Homo sapiens: one gene and its partners. The protein of the gene in region 3 interacts with the protein of the main gene of each other region in a pairwise test. Each region holds a gene or a part of one and is shown on either strand. Other genes may lie near its edges.

Evidence for each region. Proteins that work in one complex are often made in the same cells at the same time.
Region 1: the proteins of IQUB (region 3) and TMCC2 interact in a two-hybrid assay, tested with the Homo sapiens proteins (2 studies listed by BioGRID and IntAct).
Region 2: the proteins of IQUB (region 3) and ALX4 interact in binary tests that used the Homo sapiens proteins (3 or more experiments, as listed by UniProt).
Region 4: the proteins of IQUB (region 3) and PRR23D1 interact in a two-hybrid assay, tested with the Homo sapiens proteins (one large-scale study listed by BioGRID).

What each region holds. Positions count from the first base shown.
Region 1 is NC_000001.11:205,234,446-205,237,945, forward strand, and holds part of TMCC2 (transmembrane and coiled-coil domains protein 2), read left to right. Parts: intron 1-2,059; exon of another isoform or gene 2,060-2,513; intron 2,514-2,738; exon of another isoform or gene 2,739-2,846; intron 2,847-3,500.
Region 2 is NC_000011.10:44,307,340-44,311,472, reverse strand, and holds the start of ALX4 (homeobox protein aristaless-like 4), read left to right. Parts: upstream 1-1,333; 5' UTR 1,334-1,410; coding exon 1,411-1,876; intron 1,877-4,133. UniProt on the Homo sapiens protein: Transcription factor involved in skull and limb development. Plays an essential role in craniofacial development, skin and hair follicle development.
Region 3 is NC_000007.14:123,451,693-123,454,595, reverse strand, and holds the end of IQUB (IQ motif and ubiquitin-like domain-containing protein), read left to right. Parts: exon of another isoform or gene 1-1,664; intron 1,665-1,670; coding exon 1,671-1,853; 3' UTR 1,854-2,403; downstream 2,404-2,903. UniProt on the Homo sapiens protein: Adapter protein that anchors the radial spoke 1 (RS1) complex to the A microtubule of outer doublet microtubules in axonemes. The triple radial spokes (RS1, RS2 and RS3) are required to modulate beating of the sperm flagellum.
Region 4 is NC_000008.11:7,538,498-7,542,426, forward strand, and holds the start of PRR23D1 (proline-rich protein 23D1), read left to right. Parts: upstream 1-1,129; 5' UTR 1,130-1,307; coding exon 1,308-1,384; intron 1,385-2,147; coding exon 2,148-2,209; intron 2,210-2,454; coding exon 2,455-2,522; intron 2,523-2,750; coding exon 2,751-3,383; 3' UTR 3,384-3,929.

The DNA.
Region 1 (3,500 bases), on a different chromosome or scaffold from region 3:
AAAAATAAAAAACAAAACAAACAAACAAAAAGGAAATGGGAAATTAGTTATTTGGCCTCACCTCCAGCTGATCTCCAGGTCAAATAGGATGAAATACTTCTAAGAAAACCATCATGGAAATACATAGAAGTTAAAGGGTACTTAGAGCATCATGCAGTGCAATCAGAAACTTATGGGGGTTAATCAGGAAAGTTGTTCTGCAAGAGGTGGGTTTAGAGCAAGATTTTTTTTTTTGAGATGGAATCTCATTCTGTCTCAGGCTGGAGTGCAGTGGCGCAATCTTGGCTCACTGCAGCTTCTGCCTCCCGGGTTCAAGCGGTTCTCCTGTCTCAACCTCCCGAGTAGCTGGGACTATAGGCATGCACCACCAGACCGGGCTAATTTTCTATTTTGAGTAGAGATGGGGTTTCATCATGTTTGCCAGGCTGGTCTGAAACTCCTGACCTCAGGTGATCCACTCTCCTCGGCCTCCCAAAGTGCTGGGATTATAAGCGTGAGCCACTGCGCACGGCCTAGAGCAAGATTTTAAAGAAGGGGTGGGACATTTATTACCAAACAAGAGAAGAGGGGCTTTCTAAATGGGGGAAGTGAGGTAGCAAGTGCTTTTGTAGGGTCTTTGCCCTGTTTGACTAGAATGATCAGGAACAATGGAGGGTAGTGCAAATGCTGAAGTTAACTGTTTTGTCCCGCTTGCACCTTATATGAAGCAGGCAGAGGGTTGGAAGGCCCAGGATTGCCTCCCCCCCACCCCCTCCAGCCTAGGTAATATTCAGAGCAGCCCTCTATGTGGGCTCTGGGGGAACTGGTGACCGATGGGAAAGCATGTGGCAAACGAAACTCCCTGTTCTCCTGCCACATATTGAGTTCTAGATTAATTCCCAGCTGCCCTAGTTGTTCTAGTGGGAACTGTCTGGCAGGCTCAGTATTTACAGAATGTGCTTCTTTTTGTGTATCTAATTATGTCTTCACTGCCAATCCCATTAACAAGAATCTCCTTCAGCAAGGAGTTGAAATATCTGATAGGACCTAAATTTTGGGCTGAAGTTTTCAAAGTGTGGGGTTATCAGGAGCTGGGGAAAAGGGCTCAGGCAGCTTCTCAGTGGTGGTCTTAAAGGCCAACTCAGAACTCATTTCTGTTTTCATCTCTCCCTTAAGAAATGGCATCTGCCTTTGAAATCCCCATAGACTACTAGCATGCTACATTTTTGGAATGAGGCCATAGCTGGACAGGGTCCACCTTTGTCAGCCAAACACTTAAGTCTCTCTTCGTGTAAGAAGTTAGAACAAAGCTGTTGGGGGATAACAGGTATGTTTTGTGACTGTGCTAGAAAAACAGTTATTTGGCTGGGCGCGGTGGCTCACGCCTGTAATCCCAGCACTTTGGGAGGCCGAGGCAGGGGGGTCACGAGGTCAGGAGTTCGAGACCAGCCTGGCCAGCATGGTGAAACCCCGTCTCTACTAAAAATACAAAAAATTAGCCAGGCATGGTGGTGTGCCCGTATAGTCCTAGCTGCTCGGGAGGCTGAGGCAGGAGATTTGCTTGAACCCGGCAGGCAAAGGTTGCAGTGAACGGAGATCACGCCATTACACTCCAGCCTAGGCGACACAGCAGGACTCTGTCTCAAAAAAAAAAAAAAAAAAAGAACAGTTATTTTTAAACCAAATGACTAAAGGCTTCCTTATTCCAGCCAGGTTAACTGAGTGATGTCCACCAGGGAAAACAAATCTGGCTGTAAGGACATGAGCCCCCTCCCAAGCCCTCCCTAAGCCATTTGTGAAGACATCACATACATTCTGGCTCCTTGGTCTGTGTTCATCTCCTTCCAAGCCAACTCAATCTTGGCGGTTACTAAGATAATAGAGTGAGAAGAGGGTTTAAACTGCAGCAGGAGAAATCTGAGTTAGACACAAGAAAAGGCTGTTGGAGCATTTGAAATCTTTGTGAAAGGTTATGTCTTTGGAAAAGGTAGTCATCTAAGGATTAAAATCACCTTTGTAAGATGGATTTGTAGAGACTTGGATAGTGGCTGCTCAGAAAATAAATGAACAAATAATTTACCTAGCTGTCTTCCATGTTGGTGTTGAGGCCTCTGCCAGGTAATGTTAGGGACACAGAGATGTAGGAGCTGTAGCTCCTGCTGTCCAGTCACTCATATTGTCATCAAGGGTTCCATCCGTCAGCAGGTGAGAAGTTGGATAACAGTCAGACAAAGCACTAGAAGCGATGTCACAAGGCAGTACACGATTAATTGCAAAATGAGTGGTGCAGATAATGAGCGCTTATGTGTTCAGAGCAGGGCGAGATCGCTGCAGACTGGTGTGATCAGAGAGGGCTTTATGGAGTGGCGAGGTGGTGAAGGATGGGTAGGATGCAAAGAGGCAGAGAGAGGGCACGCCATGCTGGGAACTTTAATAAAAGTCTTCTATGTTGGTGTGTGCTGAATCAGTTCTGCCTAAAGACATGGTGGATGAGGTGACCTTTTCCCACTTGCTTTGGCTCCAGGCTGAATTCTCTAAGCAATAAAGGAAAGAGGAATCAAAATAAAATTGAGAATGGGGGAATTTTTTGCCCGTGTGCCCATGAGTTGAGTTTTTTTTTTAAAATTTCATCTGTGAGGCTGGGGAATAAATAAATGATTCCAAAAATCTTTCATCACTGGGTTTCCAGTAGAAACTCCAAGTGGGCCTGAACAGTTGCAGCTGCCTACTGTACACCACTGTGATCATCAGCGCCAAACCTGGGGTAATGGTTCCTCTCCTGCTCCCACTCAGGCTCCCCACCCAGAGCTTCTTAAGGGCAATTGGAGACTTCTTCAATCCACTTTGGATCCTAAGAGTAGAACTCTGTGGGTTTTTACAGTGATTAGTTCTCTAATGCTGGCCCTGTTTCCATAGAGACCCTATAAATAGAGGAATGTTGGCGACCTAGGCTGGCAAAGGCTCAGGGTGACCCAGTCACCCCACTGAACCCTCACAGCCAAACTGTTGGTAGGGCGGAAGGAGTTTCAAACCCAGGTAGGAGGAAGGGCTATGCAGTCAGCTGCCAGGTGGGATAATTAGCTATAGATTAGTGTGACTTTAAGCTTTCCTGGGATTTGTTGAGAACACACGTACCTGTAAAAATTAGAAACCACTTTTGGTCATTTTTAACCAGATGGTGCCAATGACACTGTACCCCAAGGCATTTTAGTTTTGTATTCATGCAGCTGTGTTTGCAGATTTTGGAGCAAACTTCCCCTTTGGGGGACCCACACCCAGGGAGAAAGACGGATGAAGCCCAACTGTTCAGAAACCACAGCCTTCTCAGGAAGGATCTTTCAGAAGCCATCTAGTCCTCCCTTTTTTCCTGAAAGGACAGTGCCACCCAAGGAGATGGGGCTCTTCCTGCCCTTTCAGATAGTTCCAGGGGAGGGACAGCCAACTCCCCTCACTTCCTTCCCCGGGGCACCTCACCCTGGGAGGCTCTCCTTTCTGACTACCTTATGGCCAGTTCTGGGGAC
Region 2 (4,133 bases), on a different chromosome or scaffold from region 3:
CTGAGCCTCCGTTAGCTCATCAGAAAATTGGGGGCGCCAATCTCTAGCACGGTTGTCATGAAGCGAAATCGAGGGGCTGCACGCGCAAAGTTTTTTCCCTTGCTGTGGCGGTGCCAGGGGCCTTGAGGCTCGCAGTGGTGGTGAAACCACAACCTATCAAAACCAAGCAGTTCGTTTTACAGTCGGGGGCAGTGAGGCCAGAAAGGGAAGAGACGGTCTCACCCCTCTCCCCGACCCCTGACCCCAAGGAGTGAACAGGTGACAGCGCGACTATCGGGCAAGGTCAGGGGGTCTCCAGAGTCCGCTCTCTGTACTTCGCCTGGCAGGAAATCCCCTCGCCTGGGCGCAGACGTGGGGCGTGAACGGTGCGGCCTCTAGACGGGAGCGCAGAGGGCAGCGCTCTAAAGCTTCTGAAGCCGGGCCCAGCCCAGGGCTTCTCCAGGGCTTGAGGGAGCACAGATTCCGCTACATCCCAGCCCAGCGCCCTTACAGCAGAGGGAAATAGTTAACAAGACGTGCAAGTGACCATGCACTGGACGACGAAGGCTTGTGTGTGTGTTAATCTCCCGTAGGAACGGGAATGGGGAGGAAGGTTGGAAACCTAGGAAAAGGTGCCAGCGGGAAGGCCCGCAGCGGCGCCCGCGAGCTCGCGCGCAGGAGTCCGTAGGACTCGCTTGCATCCGCAGGCCCGTGGTCCCCCTGGCTTCGAATGTCAAAACCTGTTAGGTTTATTTTGGGGGGCTTTTTTTTAACCTGTCATTAAAATTTGCATTTCCCTTTGCCCTAAGGCAAAGCTCCGACACCCCGCCAATTCTCAGCCTAGCCTCGGGAGCCCTGGGGATCCTGGCATCTCCCCAGCCCCGCCTAGAATCGGAAAAGCCCTCGGGCGCCTCCGGGTTGAATCCCCGCTAGCGAGTTAGTAGCATCTCCTTAAGAGTGGAGAGGAGGGGGCAGGGGCCAGTGGAAGGAGAGAGGAGGAGGGGACGAGAGAGGGGGAAAGGAAGAAGCAAGGCAGGGAAAAAAATTTACTTATTTTTTTTTTCCGCTGCAAAACCTTAAGAGGGTTTGGGAGATCTGGTCAACTTTCCGAAACATCTGAATCTTTTTACTGCCCTCCGTTCTTTCCCTCGGCTAGCTGTGGGGAGGGAGGAAAGAGAGAGAGGGAGAGAGAGAGGAAGGGGGGGGGAGGGAGGGGAAGAGAGAGAGAGGAGGGAGAGAGAGGAGAGAGACAGAGAAAGAAGAGGGGGAGAGAGAGAGAGGCCGGCGTGGAGGGGAGGAGGGAGAGCGAGCAGGCCGGGCAAGGAGTGCACAGCCACAGCCTCCTCGCCTCCCCAAACTCCCAGCCAAGGCGCGCGGTGGCGTCCTCGCGCCCTCGCTCGCGTCCCCGCCCGCCGCCTGCGCAAGCCAGGCATGAATGCTGAGACTTGCGTCTCTTACTGCGAGTCGCCGGCCGCTGCCATGGACGCCTACTACAGCCCGGTGTCGCAGAGTCGGGAGGGCTCGTCGCCTTTTAGGGCATTTCCCGGAGGCGACAAGTTCGGCACAACTTTCCTGTCGGCCGCCGCCAAAGCACAGGGATTCGGGGACGCCAAGAGCCGGGCCCGTTACGGCGCTGGGCAGCAGGACCTGGCGACACCCCTGGAGAGTGGAGCTGGGGCGCGGGGCTCCTTTAACAAGTTCCAGCCCCAGCCGTCGACCCCGCAGCCCCAGCCGCCGCCGCAGCCGCAGCCGCAGCAGCAGCAGCCGCAGCCCCAGCCGCCCGCGCAACCGCATCTTTACTTGCAGCGAGGCGCCTGCAAGACGCCCCCGGACGGCAGCCTCAAACTCCAGGAAGGCAGCAGCGGCCACAGCGCGGCCTTGCAGGTTCCCTGCTACGGTGAGTGCACGTGCGGGTCACCTGGTGCTGGGGACCACGGGGTGCTTGGCTTCCGCATCCCTTGAAACTGGTGGCTTGCGGGAGGTATGAGTTGGCGGGCTGGGGGCGGGGTGGTGACTCTGGTCGGTAAACGGGATCGATCGCTGCGAGGGAGCCAAGGGATCTGTTCTGTCTCCTTCTTGTCCGCCGGCCTAGGCACGGAGCGTTTCGGCTGTTAAACTCGACTTGGAGTTTGTTTTTCCCGGTCCCTTCGGCATTTCCCCAAACCGCTCGCTTTGCGCTGCCCGCTGGGCGGGATTTGAAGCGGATGCTTCTTACCGGCCCAGGGCGTGCGGCGGCAAGGAGTCTCCGCGCAGCGCTCTGGCGCTGGGCTGCGGGGCTGCGGGGCTGCGGGGCTGCGGGGCTGCGGGGCTGCGAGGCTGCGGGGCTGCGGGGCTGCGGGACAGCAGGACTGCAGAAGCCTCGCTCCTCGCCGGCTGGGAGGCTCCTCGGGCGGCGCCGCCGCAGGTGAGAGCGCCGCAGGTGCGGAGCCAGGCGGGAAGCCCGGAGCGTGGTTGGCCGAAAGCTCACGGGAAATCCAGGCGCACTGGCGCAACACAGTGCGGAGCCAGAGACCCTAGGGTCCCAGGGGACACTGTGGTCTGGCAAGACCCGAGTCCTGGGACCCTGAGCGCTACTGGCAGTGGGGATGCGGGCAGGCCAGTTCCCCTGGAGCTTCTCCCTCGGCGATTCTTGGAGGCGGCAGGCCTCTGAACAATGGTTTAGGACAGAGTAGGAAGGGAGACAGGAAGTCCCGAGTCCCAGGTGGCCCAGAGCTGTGGCAAGAGAGAAGGGTCTGGGTCCTGATTTGAGCCCACGGGGAACCCGGGGGAGCTGGCCTAAATGACCTCCAAGCTGCCTTGAACGCAGCCACAGGAGGCAGGCCTGGGCCCCCCAGAGCACAGCCACCATTGCCCGGGAGAGAGAGACACTCAAGGACGTCTCTAGCCAGAGCAGCTCAGTAGCCTAGGCCTTCTCTTCTTCCAGAGAATCGGGGTTCCTGAACCCCAAAGCGGAAGGGGAAGCAAAGACGCAGAAAGGGAAAAACCTTCTCTGGGCCAGGAGTCCTGAGCACATACCCGGAGGCCTTGGCCTTCAGGTCCGGCCCTGGTGGGAAGAGTTGGGGGCAGGGAATTTGCCCTGATCCAGGCTGATGGAGAGGCACTAGGCCTGGGGACAGAGGCTGGGACACGGCGGAGGCCTTGGTGGCTAGAATAACTTTGGGAAAACAGCCGATGGCAGATATTTTCTCGTATTCAGGTTCCTTCTTTCACAGGCGCAGAACTAGTTCATAGATGGCTGCTGACAAACATTCACAGTCATATGCTTGTCTACAATTGCACTCTACACACACACACGCAGAGAGCATCTTCTTTAGGAGCCGATGTGGTCATACCCCAAGAACACATGCCCATGTGGCCTCGAATGAGCCACATACTCCCAAACCCATAGGACAGAACTGAGAGAAGATTTAGAAAGATTCAGTGGCCCTTCCCCACTTCCTCCACCTTCCTCTTCACCTCCAGTTGGAATGAGATCAGGCATTCAGATCACAGACCCCCAAGGCTCCACACACAGACACCCACAGCTCCACATGCAGGCACACACAGTTCCACACACAGACACCCACTGCTCCACACACAGACACCCACAGCTCCACACACGGACACCCACAGCTCCACACACGGACACACACAGCTCCACACATGGACACACACAGCTCCACACACAGACACACACAGCTCCGCACATGGACACACACAGCTCTCATACAGGCACTCTTTCCGTGCTAAGCCAGCAGAGACTCTCAGCCCTGTCCGTACTGGCTGTCCTTCCCAGCCCAGGGATGCAGGCCCCAGCTCGTCCCTGTCATTCAGGACTATTAGGTGAGGGCAGGTCGCAGACTAGGGGACCCATGGAGGTTCATCCTGCATAGCCAGAGAGCTCATGCTCTCTCTCCACTGCATTGAATTTTCATATTTTAATGAAAATTACCAGTGAGACCTCTGAAGAGGCTGATACATTAGGCAAGAAGAGAGCCTAAGGAGCTCCCCACCTCTTGGTTAAATGCCTTCAGGTCCAGAGGGAAGGCGGAGAGGCCTGGCCTCCCCTGAGCCCTCTCTCTGTGTCCTGCTGGGCCCCCACAGCCAGCCTGGCCCTTCCTCTACTTGCACTAGCCTTTGGAGCTGACGGAAAGGGCCAGCCACTTGACCCGCTA
Region 3 (2,903 bases):
ATTTCAATGGGAAAAAAGGTCTCTTGATGTCCACCCATCCCTATCTCCATGTTGCAATGATAACTACTATTTCTTAGGTATATAATAATCTATTGAAATCCTTCTGGAAGTTTTCTATGTGTATGTAAGTATATATACTTTTACTGTAGCAGGAATTTCATATTAAATGACTCTGAGACTTAGTTTCTTTGCTTTACTTAACAATATAAATAATATAATATGGAAATATATTCAGTTATTTAAGAGTTACTTATTAGTGCCTTGAACACATATATCATAATTTATCTCATCTTTAATAATTTATAGTACTGTAAAGGCACCTTGAAAACCTATAAAGTTCTGTACATGTGTAAGTTAATATAGCATAATAAAGTGTGTTAGTTTTTCTTGAATGAAATATGGGCTAAGAAGTGGTAGAAACAAAGTTAGATTAGCTCAAAAGATGAATATTTTAACCTAGTAAATTTTTCTGTTAAGAGGAAATTTTAATAAGCCCAGGATACTCCTATATAATGTTTTCTGCTCTTTTGGTCCTTTCACCCAGGACTTTCTTTTATCTTTGATTTGACCCTCTGAAGAGACCTTTATTGAGGGAATGTCTTATTCTCAGAAAATAAATTTTAGGAAGAAGTATAGGTAGTATTTGTGATTTGATTGAAAAGAGGGCCAATTAAGATTAATAGGTAATAGATTATATTTATTAATTTAACCAGAATTTACTTTTGAATGTGCCAAATACTGTACTAAGTAATTACAGAGAAACAAGAAAATTTAATGAATATAACTTTTTGTTGTCTCAGTTGCATTTAGGTTCAGCTACAAGAACAGAAAAAGCAATTTATAATGATTTAATCAAATGTGGGTTTAGTTTTCTTATGTAACAAGAAAGTTCAAAGGTTGGCAGTTTGGGGCTAGTATGGTGGCTCCACCTTGTTCTCAGAAATTCAGGCCATCTCACTTTTTCCTCAGCCATATTTAATCTTCAGCTTTCTCTCTCATGCTTGGTGGGCTCTTAGTGATAGGATAGCTAGTTCATCTTCTTCATTACATGTACCTCTCAGTAATGGCAAAAGGCTAGAGGTGCTTGATAGGTGAGTCTTCCCACTCTCAAAAGTCCCTTTCAAAGGCTTTATTCAATTATATATATATAATTATATAAGGTTATATATATTGTGTATAATTAAATAATCTTGGAAGATATTTAGTTATCTCCTTAGATTCTTCTTGGTGGTGACAGTTTCTCAGACTTCCCTTGTTTTGTTTTGTTTTTATTTTTGTTTTTTCTCACCTCAATATCTATAACATTAATAATATATATATATATATATATATTCTAACTAGATACCCCCAGTTAGAATAAGGGCTAAGAAAGCTAGACACATCACACCCTATACAAAATCAGGCCTCTGGCTCAAATGGGAGAAAGAATGAATATTGAGTTGATAACTAGCAGTGGTTTAAACTTAGAGAAGTCAGAGGGAGAGTTGGGGAAAACTTCCAGGTTAAAGTATCATAGGAGCTGAGTCGTGAATGATGATAGACAACGTGAGAAAAATAAAGGTAGTCTGGGATGAAAGAATTGACAAGCAAAGGCACCGAGGCATGACAGTATTTTTACCTGGCAAAATATATCTGTGATATTTACTAGAATTTGATTTTTTTCTTTGCAGGGATATGAACGCTCATTTATTCACAAGATCAAACACAAACATATCCTGGCTAAGAACTATTTTTCTCAGGTTCCAGTGCTGGCTTCATTTATACTTGATGATGGTGAAATTGATGAGATCAGATGGAAGTATCACTCAGACACAACACCTAAGATTATAGAATCCCAGAGGCCTCCTCATTAGGTGATCCAGGAGTATTTGTTTGATGATCGGCATTTTGTTCACTGCTAATAGGGTAATACAGAGGTCACAGAGTATGGAAATGGAATTTAATCTGTTTATTGATTTTGTTTTTTGTTTTTCATAGTATTTTGAGTTATATAAAGAGAAAACATTTCTATATAAGTAAGTATTCTTTGTTAGGAAGTTGGTGCTAAATTGAAATGCAATTTTGTTACTGAAATTAATATTTTGGGGTAAAGAAAACATTTTAAAATGTGTTTTCACATTAAATTTTTTAAATTTTTTCAAGTATATTAGAGTTAAAATCTAACAAACAGCCAAATAAAAACTAGACAACTTTCAAGTTATTTATTTTAGATAGAATGTAGTTATAGGAAGCTAATCAGTATGTGGAGGGGAGGAAACATTATAAAGTGCTCTTTCTTGAAAACTTCTTTAAGTAGGATAAAAAAATTTATATTTTAGTATAGGCATTTGAATCTTTGCAGTTTATCGTCTGCTTTCACCTTCCATCCTTCTCATAATCCCAATAAAACAACACTTGAAACTATTTATAAATAAACAAAAAACCTTCATTCTGGGTAAACAATGGAGCTATTAGCATATGCAAGAAAAACTCCCTGTGGGCAATGGTGAAACTATAAGAAGAATAAACTGGTTAAATAAACCATAACAACGCCCTTCTCCAATAAACCAAAGGAGTGACCTTGACCACATATAAGTTAGGGACCTACAGTGATGAACAATGGTTTGCCAGTCAGTCTTAACAGGAAATGGATGGCACACTCGAAATAGCTTAAGCCAAGGAGAGTTTATTTACAAAGGGCCTTATTATAAGGTGTGGGTAGTGTGTAGGGAAACTAAAAGAATAGTGCAGGAACCCAGGGCTAGTATCAGACAGGCTATCTCTCCCTTTAGTCTCAAATGAACTTGGGGAGAAAGTCTGAGAACCCAGGAAGAGTGTAAAGAAGATAACTGAAAGGATCAATGACCAGCTGTAAAGGGAACGGCCAGGCATAGGGGAATCTCATGAACTAGAGAAATATACAA
Region 4 (3,929 bases), on a different chromosome or scaffold from region 3:
CTCAGTAATGGTGCACCCTCACAGATTTTCCTTCTAGTTCAGTTCTAGTGATTACTGGATTACTGTTTTCCCCCAATACCATCTATTATTCTTTATACTGTCAAATAATTTTTAATCTTAAAATGACTAATTCTGAGTTCAGGCATATGGTGTCTGGCCACCTGCAAGAAGTTTAGGTGACTTTGCCAATAAGAATGATGGATTTGTAATTAATAAGTAATGTTGAAAGCAAAACTTGCATTACAATTCTGAAATTAGTCCAGCGGGGATACAGGCAAGAAATAAATTAACAGACAGATTAATACACAATGATATATTAGAAATTAAGTAAAGGTTCTTTTTGTATTTTCCCCAGCTTGTCTTATAGTATTCGCTTCTTCTGTTTGGATAACTTTCCCCAGGAGATTCATTTTAAAACTTAATTCACTTAAAATAACGTATTTTTTTTTATTTAAAAATACTGTCAGCCCTCCACATCCATAGGTTCCATATTCATGGATCCAACTAATCTTGAATAGAAAATATTCACAAAAGATTTGCACAAGTTTCTTCAAAGAAACTTTAAATTTTCCATGCATCACATTCTTTTTGAGTTCACATAAATGACGTGACGTCTGGGCATTGCATTAAGTATTGTAAGTAATCTAGAGATCATTTAAATTATATAAATTAATGTGATTATGTTATATTCAAATTCTACGCCGTTTTATACAAGGGACTTGAGTATATACAAATTGTGGCATATTTAAAGTTTCCTAGACCCAATCCTTTATGTTTACTAAGAAACGACGTACACATGAACTTTACAGAAAATAACTGTCCTACCAAATTAATGAACAGACTACAATAGAAAGTAAATATTGCTAGTTTAAAATACTGTTATTTTATGTCACAATTATATGGTGAATCAGAGTAGAGATCTTGAATTAATTTTGATTGAATTAGGCTAATTCTGACTGGGTCACACTCATATTGACTGAGTTTTGATAAAACCACTCCCATGCTGGCCCTTCATGTTGTTTAATCAGCACCACTAGCCAATCACATTCATCCATTTTGACAAATCCCATGGCTCCACCTCTTATAAGACCCTTGGAGGATTTCCCCAAGAGCTCACTCTACCAAAGCACCATTTGACCGGTCCCAGGCCAGGACACACTCTTCCATGCTCTGGCTGTGCTGTGCTAGAGGCTGATAATTTTTCTCCAGGTAGAGTAAAAGATCAAGGCACGAACTATATAGATTTACAGAAAATAGGCCAAAGATTGAGATTTTTTTGACACAAGCAAGTCCAGAGAACTTTTACCATGTATGGTTACCGGCGCTTAAGAAGCCCCAGAGATTCCCAGACAGAACCGCAGAATGACAATGAAGGAGAGACCAGGTATGTTGGAGTATGTGGCTACTTTGGGTTGCCAGGAGGTTGACATGTGACTGTGTGTGACTGTATGTGTGTGTGTGTGTGTGAATGTATGCTAAAGGGCCAAACTAGGGCAGAGAAGACACCCTGGCCTGCCATGACATTGAATGTTATAAATTTAGAACACATTGGGGAGACATGAGACCCACAGTGGAGGCCACAGGATGCAGCCAGCATGGGGGGTTTCTGCAGCCTGTCAGGGGGCTCATCTCATGTTTCTTCCCATTGTTAATCTCTGTCCTCTGGGTAAACAGAAGTTGCCTCTTGTGTGGAGACAGGTAAACTGTGGGCATGATCTAAATTTTTTCCTTGTGCTCACTAGAAAATGGAACATTTCATGTCATTTATCACTCCATTCACACTGTAACTGCATAGACACAGGGGTTAGATACCCGGAAAATCAGCATCTTCTCCTAAAGTCCTCGGGCCAAATTTGATGTCCCTCCTTCTCATGTGGATGAGCTCCTGAAAAAGCAAACTGTTTCCTGTGATCGCCATGTCTTATCACACACATGCACCGATAGGAAAAGCCTCTAGAAAAGGAGAGGGTGGGATATGAGTGTTAGGACTTTCTGGATGCAGGTAGGATTTGGAGCTGAACACAAGTGCATGTGATTTTGGGCCACAGCAGCAATGTGTGCCGGATGACTAATGAAGTTTGGGGCTTGTGAGAATTGGACTTTGTGTCACTATGTGGAAGATTGATGGGTCCCTTTCTGTCCTGCAGTTTGGCTACCACACAAATGAATCCACCCAAACGTCGCCAAGTGGAGCAGGGTCCCAGTACAGGTAAGGCACTTTCCCTAATATTTTTTAAGATTCCCATGCCTGGAAGTCAGTGTCATGTCTCATGATACCATAAATGGAGAGGGTGCTTTCTGCAGGGTGAGTGGAAAGTCGTGCTTGACTGTTGGGGGCTGGTGTCCTGAGGCTGGCCAGTGCTGGGTGGTGGATTTCTGAAGGTCACATTCTGAAATGCAAGAGACTCTTGCTGGAAGAGAGCCTTAACCTCCCTCACTGTGGTCTCTCTGCAGGTGCAAAAAAACCCTCAATTTCAGGAGCTCCACACCTGAATTCATACCAGTCCCTGGAACTTCCCCAGGTAAGTTCCTGTGTCCTTGCATAGCAAAGATTGGATAGTGCTGCACAATCTTCAGGTTCAAGGGACATCCAGTGGATGTATATTTAGGTGGATTGGCATGAGCACCAATTCTGGGAGGGAGTTTGTATTTTAAAGTTGTAAAGGGTGAAGCTCCTGGCATCTCCCTCCCCATGAGCATCATTTGCAGCCTTTTTGGAGGGCAGAATACTGAGGACTGTCTTTCCACAGAATCAGCAGGATTCTGGCACTGAGGAGCTCATGATAGTCCTGGAACAAGGGACAGAAGTGAGGTTGAGCCTGGAAGAGGTCATCCTCATCTTGGCCCCAGAGACAGTGCTGCAGCTGACCCTGGAGAACACAGTCCTTGTGATTGTCCCTGAGCATGTCCTGAGGTCAGAAGATGGCCTGCAGTCCCCTGTGCAGATCCAGTACATCATACCTTCCGTTGATGACTTCAGCTTGGAGTTCCATGCTCAAGATGGAGACATCTCAGACATGAGAAGAGAGAATGTGCCTTTTTCACCTGCAGAAGAAGGGAAGGCAGCACCCCTGTATCAGCAGCCCTTGATGATACCCCAAGCAAACCACATGGCTGGGATCAGCCCTTCTTTCCTAGTAACCCCATTGTGCATTCCACGCTGTCGGGCAGCCTTCCCCCAATGCTACCCTCTACCACCCACACCTAGTCCTGTGGGACGCCCTAGACCAGCCGACTCCAGTTTCAGCCTGCATGGTATGGAGCTCTTGTGCACCTCCTCCCTCAGACCTATGCCCCCTTCACCAAGTCCTGGTCCCCAGGTCTATCACAGGGTTCACCATAGGCCTCCCAGCAGGGCACGGAGATGTCTCTTTAGGAAGTGATTTAACCCAAGAGCCACCCCCTGCATTGATAGGTCAGAGATTGTCCAGATCCTTAGTCAGTGCATTCTCTGAAATGTGGAGAGAAAGTAATTTGACCACTTGCTTGCCCTTTGCTGTTCCCCATCATCAACCACTGTCTTCAACAGCGGAGGGTCCCAGATGCTGCAGGGAGGGGGAGAACTGCAGGGAGTTCAAATAAAACATTCACATTTCACTTCACACACACTGTCCCTTAGACTTTCTCTTCCTATTTAAGCACATACATCCAACCACACTCAATCAAATCCCTGACTGCTCCATGTGAGAGTTCTGCTTCCAGCATGACGTGGTCTGAAAGTTCATCTGAAGACAGCTGCTCACTCCCGGGGGCTAACACCGCCCCTTGCATGCTGATGTCCTTGTAGTCATTGGTCTGATGCCACAATAAATAATTCCTAAGGCTGATGCTCTATTTCTGCCCTGAGACTCTCCCCTTTTTCTCCAAGCTGTGCCCCATTCCTTGTCTTAGTCCAGGTTCCCTACACTCCCCAGGCCAATGCTTTTGAA